Homo sapiens: one gene and its partner. The protein of the gene in region 1 interacts with the protein of each later gene in a biochemical or structural test. Each region holds a gene or a part of one and is shown on either strand. Other genes may lie near its edges.

Region 1 (3,829 bases):
TTGCAAAATAACTAGGAAGCAAAAGGGAAATTAGACTTTAAAGAGCGTAATCAGATGCAAGAAATGTTGGCTTGTAGGTGGTTAACTAAAATCGCTTACGGGAAGCTCAGACAGCTGGGGAATCCTGATTTAGTAGACGCTGAAGGGCAGGGCATGAGCCATGTGAACAGCTGCTGAAGAGCTAGAGGATTCCTTTGGATTAGGTGTACACACCCCGTCTCTAATGGGCTGTCAGAGAGCACCAAGTGTTATCACAGAGGTTCACTTTGCTCAAGCCTATGGCTTTTGCAGTGTTTTACTTTAAATGTCTGAAAATGGATTGGCTCTCAAAATAAATCCAAAAATAAAAGTATCAAAATAAGTGACTCTCTAAAACTTGTATTGTGTGGTTTTGGGTGACCACAGTTTAAAGAAGGGACTTACAGCTGATGATTTGTTATCCATTTATTGATTCATTTGTCCATGTAACAAATACACATATTGAGTGCCCATTTTGTGCCAGGTACTGTGCTATGCTCTGGCGATAGTATTCTAAACAAGTGAACTCAAAGAGAGACTAGCATTTCAAGGAGGATGTGCATATTAAATACACACACACGCAAACTACTTGCATTGGAGATAAGGGCTATAGAATAAAGCACACATTGTAATAAGAATGTATAATAGGGAGAGTTAGACCAGTCTTCGAAATTGGGGAAATACTTCTGAGAAAAAAAAAATATTCAAAGCAAGGCAAAGAAGAATGAGGTTAGAGTATAGTTGTCCAAAAGAAAAGAGGGAGCAAAAATGTCCCTGTCAGAGGGAGCAATGTTTCTGAATGTGGAAAATGGTATGGAGAAAGATCTAAAACAAGTACAGCTTTCCTAGAGTACAGTGAGGGCAGAAAAGTGTGGAACAAGCTTGCATCTGAATGGCCGACTGGGGTCCAATCATTCAGAGCCTTGAAGGTTATAGAAATTATTTTTCTCTTTATACTAAGATCAATGGACAGCCTTATGGGTTTCAGGTAGAAAACTGATGTAAACATATTTGTATTTTTTAAGACTATCACTCTGTTTTGTGTGAAAGAGATTGGCAAGTGCCTAGGGTAGATGAAGGACTATCAATCTGAAGCAATTACGGTAGCTCATCCAAAAGAAGGTGATTTGGACTAGAATGGGGACAGTGGAGATGAAAGAAGTAAATCTATTCAAGATTTGTATATGAGATAGAATCAATAGGAATTGGTGTTGTATTGCATGCTGTGTGCTCCATGAAATGCACACCTGGGTGGATAATGGTGCCATTTGCAAGGAGATTGGAAGGGAAATTGGAACAACAGGAAGGATTAGGGGTGTGGATGCTAAGGTGTTTGTTTTGTTTTGTATTTTTATGTAGCGCGTGGGTATTGTGCCTAGAAATGAAGTCATTATTAGGGATTTAAATATGCAACTCATGGAGTGGATGAGACCAGCTAGAAAGATAATAGAGTGTGAAGAGGAGATCGGAAATTCAATAAAGAAGACAAAAGCACTAAAAAAAAAAAATCAGAGAAGACACATCTAGAAAAAATGATGAAATTCTAAGGAAAATAATATTTCCATAAAGAGGTCTGTTCCTTTCGATCTCCAATTTAATGACTTCATGAATGAGGATCCCACTTTTAGCATTAGGTGTCTTGGTTTCCACAGTCTCTACCATCTATTTACCCCTAATTTCCTCCCATATTGCTATTTCTGTGAATATTACCAAAATGTTGCCTTAGTAGAAAAGCTTCAATAAATATTTAAATTGTATAACGTATTCAGCTTTTTCCTGTACTCTGCACTTCCTAAAAATACCTTCTTCGGAAACCCCATTTCAACTGACTACTGTATAATGAAATGAGCCTTCAGTGTAAAACATTTATCATAGTCTCAATTTCAATTGCTCAGTCAGAATTGTTGAGTAATATGAAAAATCATCCTTTAGAGAATACAGAATTGCATAGTTATGACAAGGTAAGTTTGCACTTTATTTAATGCTAGTTTAGTTAATATAGATGCTTATTGGAGAAATGTCTAAAAATTCTGGAGGACCGTTAGTGAAAGTGATTATCCCAATATCTGCAAAAATGGTAAAAATACCTAGAAAACATTGACATTTCAGTTTAAATAAAGCCAGAATCACAATAAAGAGATAGAAGGCATTTGAGTAATTCAATCTAATCATGGATGAATGTAATGTACTTATCAGTTAGCTTTGGAGGAAGTAAGACTCGATAGAATAGTAATATGATATTGAGCAACTTTTTTTAACATTAGGTTTTTAATTGCTTATAACTCAACATTGTTGAACACCTATGTTCTCTTTGCTTTTTATGAGACAGCAACTCTAAGTCAGAGAACAGATACACACACATATGTATATGCGTACAACTACTATAAAATATCAAGAAAGTTATAAAGCATGGTACAAATCAATCATAAATGATTACTTATGAATAGTGTGATTATGGACATTCTCATTGAAGAATCCATTTTTATAAATAGGCATAAGAGTATGGACATACAGAGATGTGAATTAGAGAATGATTGCAAGAAGCAGTGAGGCAAAAAGGATTAATGAAACATTGATCTGTCTTACATACACAGCTATTGACAGTACCTTGTGTGTGCATAGCACTATTCTAGATTCACCTAATCTTCAATGATAATACTGTATTTACCATTTAACAAGCCTGTAATAAGTGTCAGGCACTTCTCTGATTACATCACATACATATGTGATAAGTTCCATATTAACTCTAGAAGGTGGGGAAACATAATCATCTAAATTTACCAGATGAATATGTAGAGGTACAGGGAGATTAAGTAATTTGCTTAAGGTAGCTCAGCTGGTACGTGGTAGAGTCAGGATTTTAATGGTGGCAGCATGACAGTAGGATTAAAGATTCTTAACCAGTCAGTTGTCACGATCTCTCAGATTTTAATAGAATTCTAAAAAGGATAGAACAAAATATAAAATGGCAGGAATCATAGTATCTTCTAACAAGAACTAGACATGTCCCATTGAGGATGCTCTTTAAAAATAAAACCCATTAAAATTTTGGGTTGTTTACTCAAAGCCTATAGACATTGGCATATTATATTTTCTTAGATAAAAACTGAGATATCCTAAATAACTCATGCCCATTCTCTAGACTTGCATAGGGAGCTGTCTATGATAATATCCATAACAGTTATCTTGTTTCACAATTTTATTACTATCTCACTCTTCTTACTTTGTGAAGATGAAAAAGATCAAAAATAAAACTAATGCAGCCCTGGTTTGTTTGTAATCATCTACAGTTAGCCATCCTTAGAGTGGTCTCACTAGTTGTTCTTTTAGAGTTTATTTCAGTTATGTACAGGCAACTGTGCTACATGAACAAAAAGCTAAGAACTGGGCTAACCTGAACATGATTTAGTATTGTAAAAAAATGGTTTACATAGATTAACGTGCCATACTATTCTGAATAGTACTTGGCATAAACAGTAGGTTATTTAAGTTACTATAATTACTGTTGCCTTTTTACATAAACTAATTTTTCTCTTATCTTCATTATGTTAGTCATCCACAGTGTGATATTTAGTTGCATACATTCATATAGTGTACACTGTACAATTCTAGAGTGTACCAGTAACGTGGACTATTAATATTATGCTATGAGGTAAATGACACCCCTGGAGTTAAGCAATGTGCACTCTGTACGATAACGTCAACATTGGCATTCTCATATATATGATTAGAAATAATACTGAGTTTCTCTGACTTCACAAGCAATTTTATTCTCTCATCTCATAAAGAGGTAATGAATGCACACATATCT
Region 2 (3,829 bases), on another chromosome or scaffold:
TGTATTTTAAGTACAGATACACCTAAGAAGCAGTTTTTACATTAACATGTCTATCTGTGTGAACTCCATACTTCTGCAGGGGGCACACGTTGGCGTTTTAAGTGCGACTTCTTTCTGATACACGCTGTTCACATTATTCTGGTTCTTCTTATATGATCTAAATATTGAACTTAATGCATACAGAAGTGCCCTGCCCATCGCTGTTAGTTCTGCCAGCTCAAGGTCACCTGGATGCCCTGCAATGCAGAGGCTGCCTGAGGAACGTCTGTGGCCTCCATTTGGCCTCTGTATTGTACGAGGCAGGGCACAAGCACTGGGCGGGGGAAATGTTATGGAGCATCTGCTCCCATTTCTGATTCTGTCATAATCGCTGTTTCCACATTTTTAAATTTAAGCTTGTCAGAATTTCGTTTTTGGGAGGAATAGGTAGAGGCTAGTTGAGGATGGAAGAATTTATAAAAAGCAGAGAGTGACTGCCTGGGCTGTCAGTTTTGGTTCTTCATCTTGAAAGTGTTTGCTTCTGGCCTTAGAAGCTGCTCACTAGCTTTTACCCTCTGCTTATGGGCCTGCAGACTCTGGGAAATACTAATGAGGGATGGGAACCTCTCTGTCTACCCCTCCCCTAAGGCTGTTGCTTCTCCTTCTCTCTTGGAATTCATAGTCATAGAACATTAGAGCTGGAAGGGAACTTAGAGCTCATCCCCCTCATTTTACAGATGATGACACTGCCACCTCTGACTTCTGCCTCTGGCCTTCCACTCTCAGTAAGAAGAGCCAGGCAGGTGAGACTTTTAACAATTGCTGGGCTGGGCAGGGCTGGGCTGGGCTGGGCTGTCTGGTTGTTACTGTCCGATTTGTGAGTTTTGTTAACTATATGTTGCTTTTAAAGAGTCACTTTTTATTACAAATGCACATCATGGCACTTAACCCTTGCATTTTGTGAAGATTATAAGCAGTGTGCATTTTAACAAAAATTAATAACCTTCAATCAGCACCTTTAAAGAAAAGTGTTCGGATTATTCCCTTAATAAACATCGTAATATCCAAGAACAAGGTCTGAATAAAAATGAGGTGAAGAAGTACCCATTCATTAAAGTCCTCAAGAATTGTTTAGTGCTTTCCTTTATAGCTAAAAGCTGTAGGAGAAACAAATATATGAGATCTGAATAATCAAAATATTTTAGAAGGGAACAATATCTTAACAAGAGCACTGGTATTAGAAAAGGGCTTGTCACAATTCTGTCAATTCTAGAAAAATAATAATAAACCCAATCTTTAAAGGTCACAACTACAAGATTCTAGCATTTCAGAAAACAAATTTCCACATGAAATGGTTTATAACGGTGGTTTCATAACTTAGGCACCAGAAACATCTATTAAGGAGGCCTACTGTTAGCTTTAGAAGTGAAAGGACTTCATGTTTTAGGGGAAAACCATCTTTGCCTTCAGGTTACTGCTTCAAGTTGACCTGAAGCTGGTTCTGTAGGATGTGGTGCTGGGGCCTGGGAGACGGGTGGGGAGTGCCCTCCTCTTAATCTCCCCTAGGCAGCGAGCCTCTCGCAAAAGCTACTGTTAGCACCTGGTCTAAATCAGGTCACAAGTCTCCCATCAAGACTTGAAATCAATGATTCCTAAGGTACCAAGCCCCCTTGTGCCTCCTAACTCCCATTTTCAAAACCGACTGATCTAGTAGCTTATGACCCTCCCTATCCACCCCCAGAGAAGTTATGAGTTTCTGGTTTGATTTCACTGTTGCTAAGATGAGACCTCTGACAAGATTTTAAATTCTTTAAAGGCCTTAAAGGAAATGATAGGAACATGATAGGATATCTTTTTGATGTTCCTTCATTGATGAAAGAGCCTACCAAGAGTAAATAACAGTAAGACATTATTTTGGAATTTCTTTATATTGAGTTGAGGAAAATAAACTTGTCTGACTTAGTAAAAATTTCACTTCAAATATCTAAAGTGCAACGAGAAGCAAAAAGAGAAAAAAAATCCATGAGGATTTGGTTTTAAAGTCTGGTGAGTGAACCTATGTGATCAGAGTGTTGGGTTGGTTTACACATTGACCTGGCACACATGTGGGTTTTTAAAGCCCTCTGGGATTCTCTGGGGGTGAAGAACTTAAGGATCAATGCTGTTAAGACTGCAAAGTGGGGGAAAAAGACTGTAAAGTGACTGGTGCATTTGAAGGTCTGTCTGTGGCTTGCTGTTCCTTTATGGGAAAGCTAAAGTTTTCTCTTTTTTTTTCTTGTAACAATTCTATCATTATTTTAATTGATATTTACAGATTTTTCCCTCCATCTTCTGTTATAATTTTTAGGTGCTTCAGAACTGGGCCCTTTTTCAGACCCCAGGCAGTTCCCAAGCATTTCATCCCTCACTGAGAGCCGCTTCTCCAACCCACGAATGCACTATCCAGCCACCTTTACTTACACCCCGCCAGTCACCTCAGGCATGTCCCTCGGTATGTCCGCCACCACTCACTACCACACCTACCTGCCACCACCCTACCCCGGCTCTTCCCAAAGCCAGAGTGGACCCTTCCAGACCAGCAGCACTCCATATCTCTACTATGGCACTTCGTCAGGATCCTATCAGTTTCCCATGGTGCCGGGGGGAGACCGGTCTCCTTCCAGAATGCTTCCGCCATGCACCACCACCTCGAATGGCAGCACGCTATTAAATCCAAATTTGCCTAACCAGAATGATGGTGTTGACGCTGATGGAAGCCACAGCAGTTCCCCAACTGTTTTGAATTCTAGTGGCAGAATGGATGAATCTGTTTGGCGACCATATTGAAATTCCTCAGCAGTGGCCCAGTGGTATCTGGGGGCCACATCCCACACGTATCAATATATACATATATAGAGAGAGTGCATATATATGTATATCGATTAGCTATCTACAAAGTGCCTATTTTTTAGAAGATTTTTCATTCACTCACTCAGTCATGATCTTGCAGCCATAAGAGGGTAGATATTGAGAAGCAGAAGGCTCAAGAGAGACAATTGCAATCGAGCTTCAGATTGTTTACTATTTAAGATGTACTTTTACAAAGGAACAAAGAAGGGAAAAGGTATTTTTGTTTTTGTTGTTTGGTCTGTTATCATCAATAACCTGTTCATATGCCAATTCAGAGAGGTGGACTCCAGGTTCAGGAGGGAGAAGAGCAAAGCCGCTTCCTCTCTGTGCTTTGAAACTTCACACCCTCACGGTGGCAGCTGTGTATGGACCAGTGCCCTCCGCAGACAGCTCACAAAACCAGTTGAGGTGCACTAAAGGGACATGAGGTAGAATGGATGCTTCCATCACAGTACCATCATTCAGAATAACTCTTCCAATTTCTGCTTTCAGACATGCTGCAGGTCCTCATCTGAACTGTTGGGTTCGTTTTTTTTTTTTTTTTTCCTGCTCCAAGAAAGTGACTTCAAAAATAACTGATCAGGATAGATTATTTTATTTTACTTTTTAACACTCCTTCTCCCCTTTTCCCACTGAACCAAAAAGAAATCCCATCCCTAAAACCTGCCTTCTCCTTTTATGCAAAACTGAAAATGGCAATACATTATTATAGCCATAATGGTATAGATAGTGATTGCGTTTGGCTATGTGTTGTTTTCTTTTTTTTTAAATTATGAATATGTGTAAAATCTGAGGTAACTTGCTAACGTGAATGGTCATATAACTTTAAAGATATATTTATAATTATTTAATGACATTTGGACCCTTGAAACATTTCTTAGTGTATTGATATGTTGACTTCGGTCTCTAAAAGTGCTCTTTATTAAATAACAAATTTCTTCAGTGGTCTAGAGCCATATCT

Evidence for each region.
Region 2: the proteins of DMD (region 1) and RUNX2 interact in a surface display test, tested with the Homo sapiens proteins (one large-scale study listed by IntAct).

What each region holds. Positions count from the first base shown.
Region 1 is NC_000023.11:33,201,364-33,205,192, reverse strand, and holds part of DMD (dystrophin), read left to right. Parts: intron 1-3,829. UniProt on the Homo sapiens protein: Anchors the extracellular matrix to the cytoskeleton via F-actin. Ligand for dystroglycan.
Region 2 is NC_000006.12:45,544,501-45,548,329, forward strand, and holds part of RUNX2 (runt-related transcription factor 2), read left to right. Parts: intron 1-716; coding exon 717-782; intron 783-2,326; coding exon 2,327-2,805; 3' UTR 2,806-3,829. UniProt on the Homo sapiens protein: Transcription factor involved in osteoblastic differentiation and skeletal morphogenesis. Essential for the maturation of osteoblasts and both intramembranous and endochondral ossification.